3 linked regions of the Homo sapiens genome follow. The protein of the gene in region 3 purifies or fractionates together with the protein of the main gene of each other region. This does not show direct contact. Each region holds a gene or a part of one and is shown on either strand. Other genes may lie near its edges.

Region 1 (7,004 bases), on a different chromosome or scaffold from region 3:
AAATGAACATAATATAAAGGTAATTGTTTTACGTTTTGTTTCTTAAGGGAACTTTAAATTTTATAAAGGCCTTTTCATGTCTTTGTGCTTTTAAACTTTTAAATTTTTTTTTATCTCCATGATCTGCATCTAGAACTTAAAACAAATTTATTGCCGTCTATAACTGTATGTAGAGTTTTACACAACATATTCTAGTTCAGATTCTGTGGCAAAGGCCACTTTTTAGAAAAAAAAAAACCTGTCTTATGACCAGCGGAATTAAAATTCACATCTGTCCTGAGAAAATTTATCCACTCATTTTGTCCCATAGTGAATGAGAAAATTAAAATGGTTCAAGGTATAAAGTAAAGAAGCTGACTAAGGGTCAGTCAGCAATGAGAGGGACAGACAAGTATGGAAGGATCAGGCAACTGTTATAGGTAGTAAGGCAGTATAAGGAAGTCACCTTGGGCCAGGAGGATATTAAGTCAGACAGTGGGCCTGGAGTCTGGGGCAAGCAACAGGGATTCATTCCTATCAACAAATACTTGTAGATTTTGTCTGCCGTTTACTGGTTGTTGTGCTCTCTGTTGTGGAGGATATTGCAATGATTAAGGCAGGTTTCCTACCTTCATTTAAGTAGAGAATGTAAGACAAATGGCAGTAACCGTGAAGTAAGTTAGCATGTGATGAGTGTCATATGAATAGTACACACAAAGCATGATAGAAATTTAAGAAGGAGCAAGATCATTTTCACCTGGGATTAGGAAAAGTTTTATGAAGGAGGTGGTAATTGAGCTAGCTGGGTCTAAAAAGATCAGCGTTGCAGTAGGCAGAGTTGGAGGCATCTAGAAGAAGGCACTTTAAATCCTAAAGGGAGGAAGAGACAATGTACATTTGGAGCACTGATGGTTCCCGAACCAACAGCAACAGCATCATCTGGAAACTTGTCAGGCCCCACCCTGGAACAACTGAATCCAAAATTCTGGAGATGAGCCAAGCAGTCTTAAGTTTTATAGGTCTTCCAGGTAATTGTGATATAGGCTGAACTTTGAGAACCACTGTTTAGAGAATAGGAAGGAATGTGTAAAGTTGAGTCAAGCGTCTCTTAATGTACCTAGCACTAACTATATGTACTTAAGACATAATTGTTATCTACAAGGAAATTAATCAAGTAGGGTAAATAAGACAGTGATTATGCAGTGTGCTATGTGCTATTAACAGACTAAACATGGGATGCTGTAAGAGCACATGGCAGGGAAGAGGCTTAATCCACACTGGGGATGAATGTCACTTAAAGTTTCCTGGAAGAAATGGTGTCTGAACTGAGTCTTGAAAGGATGAGTATTTAGCCAGTGAGGAAGGGCACACCACATAGAGAGCTTCTGTTCGAAGTCATGGAAGCATGAGATATACAAGCCATCCAGAGAACTACAGTGTTAGTTTAGCGTGGCTGGAGAGGAAGGGGGTAGTGTCTGGTGGATTGACACTAGATCATAGAGGGATTTGCATATCATGAAGGAGTTAATCTTTTTTCTCCTAAAAGCAGTGGGAAGTTATTTTCAAGCAGGAGAATGACATTGTCTCATTTACTTTTTTAAAGAGACCATTCTGATGGCCGGGTGGATAATAGGATAGATGAATCTAGACATGAGGATTCAGAAATAATTATAGTAATTTATATGAGACAGAAGGATGTGAAAGAATACAGTAACAATGCAGATAGATAGTAGGGATCCTACAGGAGATACATTTAGGCGGTAGAAGAAAGAACTTGGTAACTATTGGATTATGGGGAAGAAAAGAGGTGGTGAATTCTGCTTTGGTTTCTGGCTTTGGATAATGCTATCCACCCAGCAAATATTTGTTGAGCACCTACTTGGTTAAGGTTAGGTTTTAGGAATACATGGGGAATACTGTTCCTGTCCTCGAGAAACTTCCAGTTTGCTGGGATGACTATTGTTTCATCTCTAGGCTTCTATTATTTGGTAATTAGTGCTTGGGATGCTATGTTGCAAGACTCCAATTTCAATAGGATAGAGTGCTGTGAAATATTAACAGTGCCTGCTACATACATGTCATGGCCTAGGAGAAACAGAAAGAACTTGATAGCCTGGAGGTAGAAAGAGGCACATGTGTTTGAACAGTGATTCTCAAGAAGTGGATCCTGGACTAGCAGCATCAGTATCATTTGGGACCTTGTTAGAAATGCACATTCTCCTAGGAGATGTAGGAGAAGAAGGTTTTGGGGGAGTGATGAGAATTTTTATTTTTGCACATGCTGAATTTAAAGGAATCATGGGTGGGCTAGGCACAGTGGCTCATCCCTACAATCCAAGCACTTTGGGAGGCCGAGGCAGATGGATCTTGGGCTCAAGAGTTCCAGACCAGCCTGGGCAACATGGTGAAAGCCCATCTGTACAAAAATACAAAAATTAGGCGGGCACAGTGGCACACGCCTGTAGTGCCAGCTACTCAGGAGGCAGAGGTGGGAGGATGGCTTGAGCTTGGGAGGTGGAGGTTGTGGTGAGCCAAGATTGTGTGACTGCACTCCAGCCTGGGTGACAGAGCAAGACTGTTTTGGGGGGCGGGAGGTGGGCAGGGAATAGTAATCTTGGGTTATCTAGGTGATTATGGCCAACAGGTAATTGGCTACCTATATCTGGAGCTCATAAGAGACATCTGGGGCTTGCATTAAAGATTTGAGCATTGTCTGTGCATTTATATTAGGTAGTAGTTGAAGCCGTGAAACTGGATGAAATCCTGTGTAGAGAGAATATAAAATGAGACGTGAAGAGAGTGAACTCTAAAGATGGTGCATGTAAAAAGGCAGGTAGAGGATGAGGAGCCTGTGAAGTTTGTCATTGAATAGCCAGAGAGATAGTTGGGAAATGAGCAGCATAGCATGATGCCAGATTGAAGGGAGTCTTAAAGAGGAAGGAGTCAGCAGTGAATAGATACTGCAGAGATCAAGAAAGAGAACTTAAAGATGTCTTTTGGAGATAACAGGAGAGTTTTGATGACTTGGTCAATAGTAGTTTGTTGTAATGGTGGCAAGGGAAGCCAGGAGGTAGTGAGACATTGAATTTAGATTGCTTTTTAAAGCTTTGAGTAGCAGAGAGGGTGAAAGCTAGAGAATTTAGTTTTGAGGAAGGATTTATCTTGGGGTTGAAAGAAAAAGTCAGAGCCGGGCACGGTGGCTCACTCCTGTAATCCCAGCACTTTGGGAGGCTGAGGCGGGCGGATCATGAGGTCGGGAGTTAGAGACCAGCCCGACCAATATGGTGAAACCCTGTCTCTACTAAAAATACAAAAATTAGCCGGGTTTGGTGACGCGTGCCTGTAATGCCAGCTACTTAGGAGGCTGAGGCAGGAGAATCACTTGAACCCGGGAGGCGGAGGTTGCAGGGAGCTGAGATTGTACCAGTGCACTCCAGCTTGGACGACAGAGCAAGACTCTGTCTCAAAAAAAAAAAAAAAAAAAAAAAAAGAAAGAAAGAAAAAGTCAGTAAAAAGGGTAAAAAGGGAGAGATTATCTTTTGAATCTTTTCAAAGAGAAAAGACAGGATTATTGACAACTTAATGTCTCCAAGGAGGTAGAAGGGAGTTTATGACTCTCCTTAGACAAGAAGGGGAATTTTTCTCATCCTTTTAACATGAAAGAGAAGGAGAAAAAGATGAAAACTATTATGTAGGTCATATAAGAGTTTAGGCTGGAAAGGAAGTCATGTGTTAAGTTGTAAATGGTTTAACTGTTTTGAGTTCAGTTTGGTCCCATTGGGGAACCATTGATTAATCTGGAAATAAGATGCTGGGTGACTTGGAAAGGGTGGAAACTAGATGAGGTGAGTTCCACAAAGGAATACTGCTTTATAGTATTACAAGTATGAAGTTATAAGGATTTGAAAGCAAATAAAAATGGAGGCATTTTAAATATAGAGTTGAAAAGAGTTAGAAACTGATGATGAGGAAACAGTCATGAAGGATGACCCAACCTAGTGATTAGATATAAAGATAGCACATTACAAATAAAACCAGGAAAGTAAGAGTGAGTTGCTGGTGAAAAGTAGTGTTAGAAGAAGGTGAGCTTGGTTTTAGATAGTTAATTTGATAGGCTTGAGACATTATACTGTAATTATTTAACAAATGTGATAATGTACTTGGAAAATAAACTGAATAATTTTTTTTTCTTTTTGGAGACAGGATCTTGCTATTTTGCCCAGGTTGGAGTGCGGTGGTGCGATCTCAGCTTATTGCAGCCTCCACCTCCCAGGCTCAAGCCATCCTCCCTCCTCAGCCTCCCAAGTAGCTGAGACTACAGGTGCACACCACTACACCCAGCTAATTTTTGTGGAGACAGGGTCTTGCCATGTTGCGCAGGCTGGTCTCAAACTCCTGAGCTCAAGCAGTCTGCCCACCTTAGCCTCCCAGAGTGCTGGGATTACAGTCGTGAACCACCAGGCCTGGCCTAGAAGTAGAATATTTGAGTCAGGGTAATAGCTGATTGGATAGTTGTAAAGATGAAGATTAAGAAAATACTGATGGAATGGTCATTAGAAGAATATTGATAATTTTTAAGACTAACTTCAGTCATGTCCTAGGTGACAAACATAAGATTGCAGGGGAAAGTAAACTCTGTGAATGCAGAAGCCTTGTCTTTGTCTTTTCGTTCTTATATTCCAGATACTTGGTATATGGTAGATGTTAAGTACTATTTGAAGGAGTATGTGAAGTGGAATAAAGGAAAAGGTGCTTATCGGACATTGAAGGCAGTGAGTGTCAGTTTCTTTTTTTTTTGAGACATTTATGAAAGAAAGACAAAGGATAATTAACTTCAGTGGTTTACAGTTGGAGTAAGTTCTTTTTTGGTAAGAGAAAGATGGGGATATTCTTGAGAATTAGAAAAGCCAGGAGAGGGAGCTGTAAGAGCGTGATTAATGGAATGAGCTCTAGAAAAGTTAAAAAGAAGAGGATAAAAGGAAAGGATAGACATTAAAAGAGAGAGAAAAAATCAGAGTGAAGAGAAATAGGCCATGGCAACAGATATGTTTTAATAATGGAGTTCATAGCAGGTGGCCTAAATCATCTTAGTATCTCAGGATAATTTGAGGCAAGTTAATTTGCTGAGGTTGACATTGAGCCTGAGGGAACTGGGGTGGTTTTGAGGGGTGAGGGCTGTGGAAGAGGATTGTGTTATCCAGTTTGGGGAATTGTTAGGCAGTTAACAAGGTAATAAATAAATATAACTAAATGGTAGCTAGGACCTAGGAGAAGGCAGCAGTTGGTCAGTGACCTAGGAAATAAATCTAGAAAACAGGGGTTTTAACCAGAAAAGAGCTTAATACTTTGGCAGTCTTTGCTTTATTAACTCAGATTTGTTCTTCTGATCAATTTACATAGGTCTAAAAGGAATCATTTTTTGAGTTCAGCTTTTAAGGAAGGGGAAACATGTTTTAGATCCGTATGTTAATTTTTTTTCCCTAAAGTTCTAAAGACACTACATTAATGTAGTCACTTAAAAATTCAAATGATATTGAAAGATCTAAAATGGAAAGTAAGTCTTCCCTGGCCACCCCTCCCCCAGTATTAAGTTTCTTGTTTATATATTCTTCGAAGAGTTTTTTGTGTGGGGTTTTTTTCCTTCCTTTTTTTTCCCGCCTGTGGCAACATATGGATTTTATTATAATTTAGTTCTTATTAAAAAGATTGATCGTAAAAGTTTTAATGATACGCTACTTATTACAAACTATAAGTAAACTCATAGTTTACTCATTACAATCAGTTTTAGTCCAAAGTTTTAATGGTATTTTAAATGTAAACAATGAGTCAGAAATAATTGATAAATCTAATTAGGTAACAATTTTATAGTGATAGAGGTTGTTACTTTAACGAGGGTCTGAACTATGACCATGTTCTTAAGAAATTACTCTGGGGAAAATAACATTTTACTAGAACTTTTTTTTGTACTTATTTCTACCTAATATCTTATTAAACATAACATGGATAACAAATTATTAAAAGAGAAAATAGCTTCTGAAGTATAATGGATAAAGCGTCTTTTTTAACTCAAGCTTGATTGTTTAAAATTTATTCCTCATTTTTACCCTTCCAAGTAAGCCTTTTCTCCAGTAGCCCTCATCTTTTCTTCCCTTTCTGAATTTTCTCCATAGACTCCATAATAAAGGAAACTTATGGTCAACATCTCCTCAGTGTTTGTGAATTGACAGTATAATTCTGACTAATTTATAGGTCTGGCGCAGGAATAACATTTTGATAAATGTATTCCTGGGTTTGTCTTTGGATTTTATAGTCTTGTACTATGAAATATTTAAAATGTTTGAAGATTTCTGTAGGAAATCTTTTGAAATTTAGCACTAATAATTTAAACAATTCATAGATTCCTATACTGTTCTTCCTCATAGAGTTTTGTTTTGTTTTTTAAATATTTCTTGTAAGTAGTAAAAAGAGGGCCAAATTGGTAGCCCTGTTGGTATCCCAAAAAAACATTCCTGTAGATGAGATGTTACATTGACTTGTTTTTCTGGTGTTGGTAAAATCACTGGTGCGTTGACCAGCTCTTTTTCTAAAGAACACAGAGTATTCATTTTTATTTTTATGTTAGAATTAGGTATGCATTTTAAAACCTAGTTACAATAGAATGAAGCATAGCAGCCTACAGAAAGGATGTTACCCTTGGCCCTTACTAGCGCTATCCATTAGTATTTTATTTTTAATCTGTCTAGATTCAGGGATGATTTTCTTTCATATCCTCCTGAGTGTAATGCCATAAGCAAGCCCCTATTTTAGGCATGCAGTATGCTGGCATTGTCTAGTATTTCTTGTAAGGCAATCTTTAATAAAAATTGGAATCTCAGGAAAAACACGTGATAATGGGCAATAAGATAAATCTGTACTTACATATTTGTTCATGGTGCACCTGTGTTCCCTAACAAATAGAATTTCATGAATTATAAACTAACTTATACTCTTTCTCAAGTAAAGAGTGAACTTATAATCAGAGGAAT
Region 2 (7,004 bases), on a different chromosome or scaffold from region 3:
AGTATCATCTTAAAAAGGAAAATAAAAAAATACTTTTTAGAGCATAAAGCATAACAGGTTGAAGTGGTTTTCAAAAAGCTACTTCTAGTGTTCTTCAGCTTTCTATTATGGCAGCATCATCTTGTGATGAAGACACTGGCTCACTTGGACACACGGTCAGCATGCATAAATACATCTCAGTGATGATCAAGTTACTGCCATCTACAGGACCGCTTGCAAATAAGATGAAGAGAGCTACCTCAGTGTTAGCAGCAAGGCTTCGAGGTCTGTACTACTCAAACCACTCCTAAGGGTATGGCCAATGCACAGTTTGAATGTTAGGGAACACACCAGGTAATGTTAAAGATTCACCAGTTTTCCCCTTGGAATTAATTCTAATAAAATCTTCCACAGGGTAAATTAAAAATAAATTTCTCTCCCCTTTTACTCTTCATTATTTTTAGTCTCAAAAGCCTCATATACTGTTCCAATGAAACAAGAATTGGCTCTGAACCAAAACCAAAAAGAAGGGAAGAAAATCCAGAGTATTCTATGATGCCCTGTTAAGTATTAGCGTGTGGCTTCCACAAGAAAGTTGTCAAACTGTGCAAATTCAAAGGAGTGAGTTCCAATTGCAGCCCAGCCATTCTTTGGAAAATTCACAGGGATGTCTGTCCACAGAGACTTGTCATTCAGCATGCCAGAGGTGAAATGACCCTAGAGTAGAAAGAAACACATTCCTTGAAACCATATGAAAATGGTCCTCTGAAGTCTGTTTCTTGATCATGTATGGCCCACTACTTAGTGGAGCAAATGTACTACTCACTCAAGACTTAACCACAGCAAAACACAATTCCACAAGTTTGAGCAAAAGTTTAAAATACAGGAAAAAACTCTAGGAAGAAATTCTTATCTACCTACTTAAATCGTTCCCAAAGTACAAGGAATACCTCAATATTTCCTGTGCTCCACCAAAATTTAAAACCAACAAAATGCAAAACTTTTCAGGCATTATTATAAAGTTTTAGAAAAAAGCTCATTAAAATTTAACAAAAGTTATTTATAAGTAGTCACATGTACAAGTGGTGTGGCTAACAGCCACCAGCTCTTCAGACATGACTGCTGGAGTCAAAACATCTGCTTCTACCTCATTGCTTCCTTAAGGTTTTCATTAAGGAGCCTCTGCCCAGCCAGAAGAAAAATAATTAACCTTAGTTTTTGTGTTTTGTTGCCATGAATAGAATATCACTTCAAAGCCATATGAAGCTCCTACCCTTAAGTTGGAAAAACAGTAACCATCAGTTAAAGTGATGCTGGAGTAGGGTGCAGCGGGTGGAAGAAGGGAGGCATCTATAAGGTGTGACTTACTGGTCACTGACAGTGAAAGAAAAAATTACACCTTCCTCCGAATGTTGCCATTCTACTTAGCTCAGTGCCTGGCACATGGTAAACAATAAATCTCAGCTCTTATTATCTTTATGATAGTACATTTATGAGCACATATTCACAGCATACTAACTACAGTCAATCATATAAAACTAGCTACTCTCAGAAGGTGAAGAGCTCAAAACTCAAAGCACTGGGCCAAGAACCAGAATAAATCTGCTTTTAAGTCTTGGAAGTATAACGTAATGGGCCTTAATTTAGTTCTTTTATTTTATGCGTGGAAACACTGAGGCTTAATAGATTAAAGCTCAAAGTCACAGGTTTTCACTCCAAGTTACCTAGCTCCAAATTCAGAGCCACATTCCTATTACTACAGACTTGCACAGCTATCTTCAGCTCTAGAAGTGCTTACTGAACATCTTCTGCTGCCATCAAACACTCAATATTAACACCGAGCCAAGGGACTCAAATCACAGATCACATTAAGCACAAAACCTGTCTAACAGGACCTTATCTCTCCTGACTCCCCAGACTTCAGCCACCCCAGCCTCCAGGCTGCTCTTCACACAATGTCAGCTACACCTGCCTTTTGCACCTGCCACTTGGTCTGCTCAAATTGTTCTTCCCAGCATTCAGGTCTGCACTCAAGTACTACCCACTCAGTGAGGTCTTTCCTCACCTCCCTGGTTAGAGAATCAGGGTAACAGAGCTACTTTATCTCATGACTCTATTTTTTCTTCATAATCATTTATAAACTTATTTACAAGTTTATTATCTCAGGATAGGGCTCAGCAAACTATGACCTACATGCCAACCGCCCTTTTTTTAATAAATAAAATCTTACTGAAACACAGCCACATCCATTGTCTATGGCTTTTTTTCTCATTATTGTCTATTGTCTATGGCTTTTTTACTCATTACAATAGCCGAACTGGGTAGCCACAGCAGAGACCACATGGCCCACGAAGTCTAAAATATTTACTATCTGGCCCTTTACAGAAAAAGTTGCCAACCCCTGTCCTAGAAGAATATATGCTCTAAGAGAGCAGGAATCTTGTCTGTTTCGTTCGCTGCTGTATCCCTAGGACTTAGTAAAGTGCATACAGTAGGGGCTTAATAAAAATGTGTTGAATATAAGAATGAAACACATTTAACCCTCAAAACAACCTCACAGAAGTTATCTCCATTTTGCAGATAAGGAAATGGATACTCAAAGAGGTGGAATAACTTGCTAGAAGTCTCAGCATGTGTTAGTGAGGAAATACGAATGCTGGTCTGTCTGGTTCCAAACACTCCTACTCCTAAAAATATTAACTTGACTCATTAAGTGCTTACCACATATCAGGTACTATATATATATATATATTTATTTATTTTCTCATTGAATCTTCATAAGAAAAGTGTTCTTCATGATATCATGGATGGGAAAATTGAAGCTGTGCAATATAAAATACTTGCAAGTAGAATATAGTAGACTTCAAAGTCCATTGTGCTACCCACCATGCAACAGAACTGGGACAAGTCACCTGACAAGTGCTGAGAAGAATTCAACAGGTGGCTGATAGTCAGTGACAAAATCCTCACATTAGCTGTAATTTGGAATATGGGCAACATAGAAGATGATGTTTTGTTTTTTTTATTTACGCAAAGAAGATTTATATGTCAAATACTGTTTAATGCACTGGGAATTTAAGATGAACAAGAAAGACAAGGTCCCTGCTCTTATGGAGCTTATATTCTAGTAGGAGATGGACAGATATGCACACACACACAAAATGAGAGCTAAAAGATAAGTAGCATGTAAAAATTAAGCCAGGTCAAGGTGACAATGGGTGCCTGACAGACTACTTTAGTGCAGATAGTTACAGAAGACCCTCAGAGTATGTGGCAAAAGCTGAGATTCAAGAGGAAACAGAATGCCCATAGTTGATGAAACACAAAATAACAGGAGTAGGGGAGTGAGGTGGGTGCAAGCCAGCAAAGTCCTATCCATCCTAGTAGCAAGACAAGAGCCAATTTTTAAAAGTAATGAATCACATTGTATTAAAGACACACCAGAAGAAACAGCTAAAATAGTGAAGAGTGGCTGTATCAGAAGTACAAGACACAGAATGGGGTCAAGAAGAAGGAACAGGATGTGAGGCAAGATGCCTCACATCCTATTGATATTTTAACCAGGTATGCAAAGTACCTGAAAAAAATTAAGAAAATTTTTAAAATCTCATTCATGATTTCAAAAAAACTCATAAAATTACTAAAACAAACCTAATCAAAAGTTTGCAAAAATAAAACTGAAGGACATAGTGGCAAATCTTAATAAATGGTGAAATATAGCATGCTTTTGTTCCTGTGTTCTCTCATGGGGAAACACATTATTGTTAAAAAAAAAAAAGTCATTTTTTCCTAAATTGATGTGTAAATTTAATGTAATACCAGCACCATTTTTCAAGTAACTGAAAGTTTGTTTTTTAAAAGTCAAATCGAATAATATATATAGTGGAATAGCAAAGATAATTTTGAAAAAGAAACAATGAGGAAGTTGCCCCACCAGATATCCATTCATTCATTTACCAAGTATTATTCGGACTCTTGCTCTGCCTGGCTGTCAGGCACTTTTCTAGGTGCTACAGAGCCAGCAGTGAGGAATATGGAGAAAAGCCTGTCACTAAAGGAGCTATGTGCTAGTGAAGGGAGTAGGAAAACACATGAACAATTAACAGAATATGTGTGATGTCAGCTTGGGATAAAACTTTTGGAGAAAAATAAAGCAACAGAAAGGAGTTAGAGAGTGAGATGGGGCGCTGTTTTCTATCAGGTGGTCAGGTAAGAAAACTCTGAAGGAAGCAAGGGAGTAGCTGTATCATCAAAGCTTTTAGAATGTGAACACCAATTAAAAGCGTGATTTTGGATAATAATAGACAAACATCAATATGGAGAACAGAAAAAAGTTCAGAAACAAGCATGTGCACATGTGCTGATTTGTTACATCAAAAAGGTAGCCTTTAAATTATGGGCAAAAGGATAGTCCATTGTAATAAATGATGGCTATCCATTTTTTAAAAAATTATATTCAGTACTTCCCCTTACAATTCACAAGTAAATTTCTGACGTATTAAAGACTTACACATAAAAATAAATCCTAAACTTTGTTTAGCTTGGGGGAAAAATGTTCCTAACCTTGAGAAACAAGAAGGCCTTATTTAAAACATGAAACATAAAAGCAATGAATAAAAAGTGAAATATTTGACAGTATCAAAATGTAAAACTTATAATCATCAAAAATACCATAAGCAAAATTAGAATACACATGAAGGAAGAGCATAGTTGTGACGTATGTAACAGACAATGGGTTACTATCCAGAATACATATTAAATTCACACAAATTTGCCAGAAAAAGACAACATGATAGAAAAATGAAGAAAGAAGTGAACAGGCAACTTCAGAGAAGAGAAAATACAAATAGCCAGTAAACATTAGATGTGCAAGCTCCCTAATTATCAAGGAAATACAAATCATATCTATGAGTTTGGAAAAAATCTTCAAATTCAATAATAGTGAATATTATTATAATTGCTATAAAATGGCTACAATTTGGCTAGTGTGGTATAGTTAAATAATCTATGCTACATCCAAACCAAATCTTCAATATACATATTGTTAATGCTAAAAAATAATTAGTGCTGTCATTTTTGGTGGTTGAGAGAACAAATTCCAAAGTTATTGGAATCTGATTTTTAATTTCTACTGCACTCTAAACAAAATTGTGAGAGAGCTATCTTGGGAGAGACCAACACATTATACACAAAAATTTATCTGCACAGCATCCCTTGGAAGCACTGTCGAGCAGTAACTCATGATCACCCAGTGATTCTCAGGAACATTTTTATATTTCTATTATACTAAAATTAATCTGGTATTTTCTCTGACTAAAATATTCATGGAAACCAATTTCTAAAAATTATGCTTATAATTGAAAACCAAATTATTCTTAACCATCAAAAATAAATGCATATGGCTTTGCTTACATCTATAAGCTCCATGTACAGTCTTGGTTCAAGCAAACTTGAAAAAAATAGTTCAATTATTGACTCTATCAATTATGCCTCAGTTTAAAAAACAAAATAAAATTTTTTAAAAAAATAGTGACCTGATAAAGTCAACTGCTGATGGTTCTCACATAGGTTACCCTCACACATGTAACTATCCTAGGGATGAGTGGCTTCCCGGCACCAAGGCAGATTCTTTGTCTCTCTTCATTATATGTCACACTTTCCCCCTCCTATTTTATAACAGAAAATTATAGAAATGCACAACAAAAGAGCATTTTACCTCCAGACTCCAATCAGCAATACTTACCTTAATAGTTAACGTGAGTGTATACCATTTTTTTGCTGTAACTTCAACACGTCCTAAAGCATATATAATCCATCCAGCTGTAACACAAAAATATTATCCCAATAGATATAATTTTGAGATCTCAATCACAGAATCATATAATTCAGTGGGGTTCTTGAGTGGCATCTGTATGTAGTAAAGTCAGCCTCAACAGAGAGCTATGTCCCTTCATTCCCAGATCTACAACTGAGTTAAGCCAAAACATTTTTCATTTAGCCATGCATTTAATAGCATATACTGAGATCCTACTCTGAGCCATATACTATATGTGAGCTCACAACAGAACCAGTGAAATAAACTTAAAAACCAGTGATAGTATGAGGTGTTAGCATCTGTAGTTCAAGTACACATTTATACATGACTGGATTGAATATGGAAGACAAGAGAGACAGAATATAAAATTTCCAGCCAGTCTAATTGGTCACATGGTAATAGTATTAACTTAGAGGGAGAAAATAGTAAGTTAATTTTTGGAATTAGTGTTATTTGAATGCCTATGAGAAACCCAGGACAAAATTTCAAGTAGGCGGTTTAAAACAGACAATAGGGACTGCAGACACAGATTTAAATTCCTAGTTCCAGTTCTGCCACTAACTAGCTTTGAGTCATTAGGCCACTCAATTAACCTCACTGGTTCTATGTTTTCGATTTCAGTATCACTGAGGTAAGTTCAGATTGGTAATGCTATGAATATGTAACTCTTGTTCTAATATCCTTACTACCTACTTCCTCTTTAATTTTTATTTTATTTATGGAGTCAAAGCAAAGAGCAGAAAACTATAAAAGAGATATTTTTAAATTAAGGTAAGACGAAAGTCAAGAGACTGAGAATCAAGAAAAGTCACTACCAGTAAGGTCTAGCTTCAAAGGAGTGGTGTGTATCAAAACCAATCTGAAGTGGACACAGTTCAATCTGAACATATTTGAAGCACCTATTCTGGATAAAATATTATCCTACCTAACACAAGGGCTGTAAAGATGACTGAGAAAAGTCAAGCTATTTTCAAGTATTAACTAAATTCAAAAATGAGATTTTTCCATTTTAAGCCGATCAATTCCCCTCCTTATATTTCTATAGGTACAGCAGCAACAGTCGTATACTCTTGCTTTTATTTATGGTGCCTCCTGAGCATTCTCTCCCTACCACCACTACCTCAGATGGTTTTGATACTATCTATGCAAATCCTATCCTCACAGCCCAGTTCAACTCTACAATACCCTTAAAAGCTTTGTACAATTATTT
Region 3 (6,558 bases):
CCTTGAGAGCAAAATAGGCCACAGGCACACGGGGAAGCGCCCGAAATACAGAGCGCCGATAAAGACAGAGATGTTCACTCTGATAATCAGGGAAACACTAAAACAGACTGCTTTTTCCTGAGAGATTGTCAGAGGTCATGGTTTTGGGAGGAACACGAAGACAGGTGAGGAGTGCTGCGCCTTGGGCAGGTCAGGTGGGGTTTGGGGCTTTCCAGGGGCTTTTAGTGGGAGGTGATGGGTTGTGGGGGTTTTGTAGGCAACAAAGAGAGGCTGGCACCCACCACAGTGGCTTTCTGTGTGAGGGGCTGCCTGGCGTGTGGCAGGCCTGGCGCAGCTACCCACACACCTGCTACCTTGTAGATCCTGGAGCCAGGCCGCAGGGAGCGGCTGGGTCTGAAGATGGCCAACGAGGCCGCTGCCAAGAACCGGGCCAAGAAGCAGGAAGCCTTGCGGAGAGTGACGGAGAATCTGGCCAGGTGAGGGGCCGCCTGGCTGGTGGGGAAGTGCGAGGGTGGCTCTGGCCTGCTCCTGTTCGGCCCCTGCCCTGACCGTGTGGAGGCATGGCCCACGCGGCAGAGTCCAGGGCAGGTCCGCGGGGTTCTGCAGTGGGTACTGTGGCAGCTCCTCTATCCAGAGCATGGCCGCACATGGACAGGATGAGAGGCCCCCTCCATCTTCTCTTTCCTCCACGTCCTCTTTGACCCGTCCCTAAGAGGCATCTTTAGGCGTGTGGTCCTGCTGGGAGCTTTCATCAGCCCTGTGGAGAGAGTCATCGTTCCCCTTGGAGAGGGGTGGGGACTCCAACTCTCAGAGGCCTGGGGGTGCACCCCAGCCCCCACAGCCAAGGGCGGTGCTGCTGTTTGACCTCAGGTTTGACCTGAGCGCTGCTGTTTGACCTCAGGGATCCCCCGCATTTGCTGCCATGCTGGCAGTACCATCCTCCTCAGCTCAGAGTGACTGTGTCTCTGCCCAGGCTCTTCCTGGGAGCCAAGGGAGGCCCTGCTGCCGGCAGCTCTCAGCCCACCTAACCCTGCCTCTCTCACCCATTCCTCCACCCCAGCCTCACCCCCAAAGGCCTGAGCCCAGCCATGTCGCCAGCCCTACAGCGCCTTGTGAGCAGGACGGCCAGCAAGTACACAGACCGGGCCCTGCGGGCCAGCTACACACCATCCCCAGCACGCTCCACCCACCTCAAGACCCCGGCCAGTGGGCTGCAGACCCCCACAAGCACACCGGCGCCTGGCTCTGCCACACGCACCCCTCTCACACAGGACCCGGCCTCCATCACGGACAACCTGCTGCAGCTCCCTGCCCGGCGCAAAGCTTCGGACTTCTTTTAGAGCCAGGCCTGGGCTGGGCTCATAGACGCTTCACAGAGCCTGCAGGGCAGCTGTACACCCAGCAGAGGACTCCAGCCTTCTCGGGGCCCAGGCCTGGGCCAGAAGCTGTTGACCATACCAGGAGTCACTGGAGAAAGGGGCTGTGCTGGGGCCAGACTGGCACAAGGCACTCGTGCCCACACCACACCCCAGGGCCTTGCCAAGCTGTTTGCTGTTTAATTGGCCCCTTGAACTGTCATTAAAGAACACCTAGGTACAGTCTGGGGGGTTGCCTCTCCATCTTGCTCCCCACACGAGCCCTAGCCTTGCCCTGGGGCCTGCATCACGTCTCAGGACTGCGGGGCTTGAAGCGAGGGGCCCCCCAGGTGAGGAAGCTGCAGGTGGGGCGGCTGTGGGAGCACCGGGTGACTGGCGTTGCTTTCTGCGGCACTCGGAACCTGTGTTCTGAGTTGAGCTCACATCCTGCAGTGCTTTCTGCTTCTCTGGGGGGATATGAAGGAGAAACGGAGCCCTTGGAAGTTGTACCCTTAGGTTCCCCTGCGGTTCTGGGCCCAGGTCTGCAGCCTCCACTCTGGGCTTGCCGGCTGTGAGGTGCGCTGGTTATAGGACTGTGTGGGGGCTGCATATCAGGTGATCTCAGCTATCACCTTCTCCCAGCACCTGGCTTCCAGCTCATGGGGTGGGACTATCCCACTCACCCCTCTGCTATAGGCACTGCCCATCTTATGCTGCTGGCCCTGGCCTCACCTGGTCACTTCCACCAACAGGAGCTCCCAGATAACAGTGGGTTGCTGGACAGATCAGGCTGGGACTCTTAAGGGGTGGGGGACGTGGGGCCTTCAGTGCTTTATCCCCTAGGAAAGGGTGCACGTTATCCCAAGGGAGCCCCCAGGAAGTGGGGAGGGAGGGGGGAGGAGCATGTCTAGGTGCTGACCACCTGGAGCACTTGGCCAGCAAGTGGGCCGCATGCTTTGGGAGCAATGGGTGACCCAGCAGGAAGCACAAAAGACCGGCCAGTGTGCCATCATCAAGGGCTGCTGAGCAGCTTGAAGAGCCACTGGGTGGGGAGGGCACACGGGGAGGTCTCAGCTGGGGCTGCCCCTGGAGGACAGGGCAGGGAACTTGAGGGCTGAGGACAGAAATCTCACATGACTCCAGGAAATAGAGGAAGAGGAGGATGCTGAGCGAGGGATTGTGAGGGAGTGGGGGTAGGTCAGAGGGGGCTGAACTGCAGGAAGCCAGGGGGAGTCGTGGACCACTGGAGCTGGCCAGCCCCAGGGCATTGGGGACAAGGCCAGGTCAGAGGGAGACAGTGTGGGCCTGGTGGGTGGACCCTGGCAGAGGCCCTCTTGTCCCCCACAAGGCCAGGCCACACTGTGATTCTGCCTGTACCTGAGCATCTGTCCTGTGCTCCTAGGCCGGAGACCACTGTGTGTCAGGTGGGGCGGTTGGCTGAGTCCCAGAGAAAAACACTCCTCACTGGGCACTCTTGATGCTTGCACACACCCTGTGGTTTATTTGGTGGTCAGTAAGGAACGTCTTTGCTGCTAAGTGGAAGAAAGCTAATGGAACGTAATCAAAATAGTGGTTTAATTGACGAATTTTACTTGCACCTGTGCCTTCTTCAGATCCTACCTGCCTACTTAGTTTACGTGAAGGCCGACTGCACCATGCCCCCCAACCCCGACCCCCACCACACACAACGGGGCCATTGTCATGCTAGGTGCTTGCTTTCCCCACCTCAGCTCCGGAGATGTGATGGTCTTTGGCCCTGGAGGTCTCGGCCAGCCTGTCCTCCATCCTGTTCTCGTTCTCGGGCACCACCAGCAGCCGGTGCTGGGTTTTGGCTCCAAGCTTGTGGTCGGGCCGGTGGTCGGGCCTCAAGCCTGTCTTGGTGTCCAGTTTGCACTCAGCGCGGTACTTGCCCTCCCCCTCCCTCTTGAAGGAGGCAGAAGACGTGGCTTTGGGCTTGGGGGGCTGCAGCCACGAGTGGCTGAGGATCTCATCGATGTGGAGCCGCTGGCTGACGTCGGGCTGCAGCATGCGGTAGATGAGGTCCTTGCACTCGCAGGTCAGGTTCTTGGAGCGCGGGAAGTCCACACGGTGCTCCTTCTGGATACGCAGCATCTTCCTGATGTCGGAGTCGTCATAGGGCATGGAGCCGCAGACCATGATGTACAGGATCACGCCCAGGCTCCAGATGTCATACACCTTGGGCTGGTAGGGGATGCTCTGCAGCACCTCGGGGGCTGCATATGCTGCCGACCCGCAGAAGGTCTTGCTGAGGATGATGCGCCCATTGCTGTCCCGCAGGCAGCGCTTGGAGAAGCCAAAGTCAGACAGCTTGATGTTGAAGTCCTTGTCGAGGAGAAGGTTCTCGCACTTGAGGTCCCGGTGGACGATGTCCAGGTCGTGGCAGTACTTGACGGCGGAGGAGAGCTGTCGGAACATCTTGCGTGCCACGTCCTCATGCAGGGCTCCCTGGCACTTGATGAACTCGAGGAGGTCGCCCTGGACGCCAAGCTCCATGATGATGTAGATCCGTCCGTCAGAGGTCTCAAAGATCTCGTAAGTCTTGATGATGGAGCCGTGGTTGACAGTTGCCAGGATGTCCATCTCCCGAGGAAGGAATCTCTCCACAAAGTCAGTAGGTGTTTTCTTGCGGTCGATGATCTTGACAGCCACATTGAACTTGAGGCGCTCAGAGTAGGCAGATTTGACTTTTGCGTAGGAACCCTTGCCAAGATTGATGCCTACGATGTAACCCTTCTTCCTTAGGACTGTGGCATCGTCCATGGTGCCAGGAGCGACTGGCGCCGCTGCCGTCTACATCCCCCCGTCATGTGGGCCAGCAGGCATTGTCCTCATTTACACTACCGGAGGCGTCTGGCTGGGCTGCCCTGGGCTGGGCTTCGACTCAGGGGTGGAACACTCAGCATTGTCTCCGGGTGACTTCAGCCAATGAACTCATAAAGCCAAGGAGTGGGGGCGGGGACTGGGCTGAGGGAGAACAGGGTCTCTGGAACCGTGGAAGCCAGGCTGGTCTGGCAGGAGCACCCACTCCCCGCCCGCTGGAAGGAAGCCTGTCCCCAGGACAGGACTCTGGTGGCCCTGCTGCTGCTGCATTGGTTTCCCTGTCACAAGTCAAGCTGGAGGGGAGGCGGCCCACGTCCAGCCTGTTTGCATCACCTGGCTGTGGGGACTGACCCTGCATTGGTCTTTGTCCCACTAGGGTGGGTTTCCTGCAGCTTCTTTGGCTATGAAGAAAAGCACCCCCAGGGCTGTGTCCTTGGTGTGGTAGGACAGTTGTCCCTGACAGTCACCCAGACAGGCCTGCATAGCACCCCAGTTACACAGACAGATTTCCACAGCACTGCCTTACCATTGAGCACATAGTTAAATCTAGGGAAATCAGTGCCCAGACATCAAAGCTAGAAATGAAACATGGTCAGCAGGAGCCTTGCATGGGCTTCTCTTTTGCTGGAGCAAGCCAAAATAATAGGAACGGTTTTACATTCCTAGTGCCAGGACCCATCTCGGGTCGACAAAATCTGAAGACAAGTTAAGGGAACAGGCAGCTGTTTGAATAGATCAATTGGATAGTCTAAGGCAGCTCTCTGGACCAAGCTGTAAAGGAGATACAATCGAAATAATCACTCCGGTACCACAGTAGACAGGCCTTGAAGGCACTGGGCCCCTTTTAATCGGACTTAGCAAGCATTTTTTTTGCCTCTGACCTTCTCCTTGGAACAAAATTAGTTACCAGTAGACTTAGGTGATTGCTGTACTGCATGTAGGCACATAACCCCAACCTATATAAACAGTAAGAAAATTGTAGCACTTTGAGTTGGTCTGCTGGAATTATCTCCAGCCTTCTCCCTGTATCCAGTTACAGTGATAAACTCCCTTCTTTCCTAGTTTGTCTGCTTCTCGTTATTGGGCCTCAAGAAAATGCAGCTGGACCTGGCTTGGTTCTGGGAACAGTGGTACCTGGGAGGGACTGCCCTGGACCAGTCAGGCTGGCAGTGGTGCCAAGCCTGGTAGACGAAAGCAGCTCTGTGTTTGGGAGCAGAGGCGGCAGGCCCCTCAGGGTAGAGAGCCGGGCAGGTGAGTCGCTGCTGCTCCAGCGAGCAAGGGCCTGTGTATGGGTGGGTCGGGGCTGCAGTGCATGCCAGCTGGGTGCCCAGGGTCCAGGGCAGGTGGCTGCATGTCTGAGGGGTGGGGCAGGGCCTCCCTTGGGTAGAGGCGGCAGGAAGGCACCCAGGCAGCAGAGAGCCTGGGAGAAGAGAGGGCTTTTTCTGAAAGTGACTGGAAGTAGGAGGGAAGTGAAGGAGTCTCGGCTTTTTCTCTAAGCGGCAGCCTGCCCCTGCAGGTGCAAGACAGGAGGAGGGCCGTCCCAGTTGTGTTTTAAGATGGTCAGTGGCAGAGAGAGAGAGACAGAAAGAGTAGAATTGGCTTTGAGGTGAGAGTGGGGGCCAGTGCCTTTGACCAAATGAGAAGAGGCTGGGCCAGGGTGGGCCTCAGGATCAGCAGGAGACAGAGAAGGTCAGGTCTTAGTCTTGTTTGCTAGACTGTGAGTGGATGGGCCTTGGTGCTGGGGAATCCTGGGGCTGAGAGCGCCCAGGCCATGCACTGCAAAGACCAGGCACCTGGGTGAGGAGGGGGTTCTGAATCACATCAGTTTGGGCCTTTGTGTGGAGTGAGCAGCAGTCGCCTGTTGGAACCCTGACATTGGGTAGCATTTACGTCTCGGGCTGCCTTTTGCACCTGCAGTGTGAACATCCTGTTTCAGTGCTGGTGTGTGGATTTGTGCTTTGGGAAATGTGGCATCCTGTACATGTCTCCTCAGGTGCGTTGGACTGATGTTCATTTGTCATCCATCACAGGCATCCTGGATTCACAGGGAGCAGCTGGGACAGATGAGCTGTGTGTTCAGTGTTTAGGGGAGAGGGAGGAAGGCCTGTTCCCAGGTGGGGTTTAGTCCTGGAAGGTTTCAAAGAGGAAGTGATGTTGGAGCTGGGGTGCTGGGGATCAGCAGACTCCACAGGGTTGACAAGAGGGGCAGGACATGTCAGACAGATGTGACATCTTGGCCCTGGCATGGCTGTGTGGACCCACTCCATCTGGAGTACACAGGGAGCACCCTGTGTTTGGAGGTCACTAGGGAGGATTGCAGAAACAGGGCAGCCAAAGTCAGGATGCTAAGCTGAGAGGCTCA

What was found.
Region 1: the proteins of ESS2 (region 3) and PPP3R1 purify together in Homo sapiens (co-immunoprecipitation; 3 studies listed by BioGRID and IntAct, with this or other methods). This does not show direct contact.
Region 2: the proteins of ESS2 (region 3) and GALC purify together in Homo sapiens (co-immunoprecipitation; 3 studies listed by BioGRID and IntAct, with this or other methods). This does not show direct contact.

The regions. Positions count from the first base shown.
Region 1 is NC_000002.12:68,242,533-68,249,536, reverse strand, and holds part of PPP3R1 (calcineurin subunit B type 1), read left to right. Parts: intron 1-7,004. UniProt on the Homo sapiens protein: Regulatory subunit of calcineurin, a calcium-dependent, calmodulin stimulated protein phosphatase. Confers calcium sensitivity.
Region 2 is NC_000014.9:87,934,183-87,941,186, forward strand, and holds part of GALC (galactocerebrosidase isoform a precursor), read right to left. Parts: intron 5,800-7,004; coding exon 5,723-5,799; intron 697-5,722; coding exon 550-696; 3' UTR 1-549. UniProt on the Homo sapiens protein: Hydrolyzes the galactose ester bonds of glycolipids such as galactosylceramide and galactosylsphingosine.
Region 3 is NC_000022.11:19,128,978-19,135,535, reverse strand, and holds the end of ESS2 (splicing factor ESS-2 homolog), read left to right. Parts: intron 1-360; coding exon 361-476; intron 477-1,060; coding exon 1,061-1,340; 3' UTR 1,341-3,059; coding exon of another isoform or gene 3,060-4,136; 3' UTR 4,137-5,257; downstream 5,258-6,558. Other genes in the region: TSSK2 (testis-specific serine/threonine-protein kinase 2), read right to left, coding at 3,060-4,136. UniProt on the Homo sapiens protein: May be involved in pre-mRNA splicing.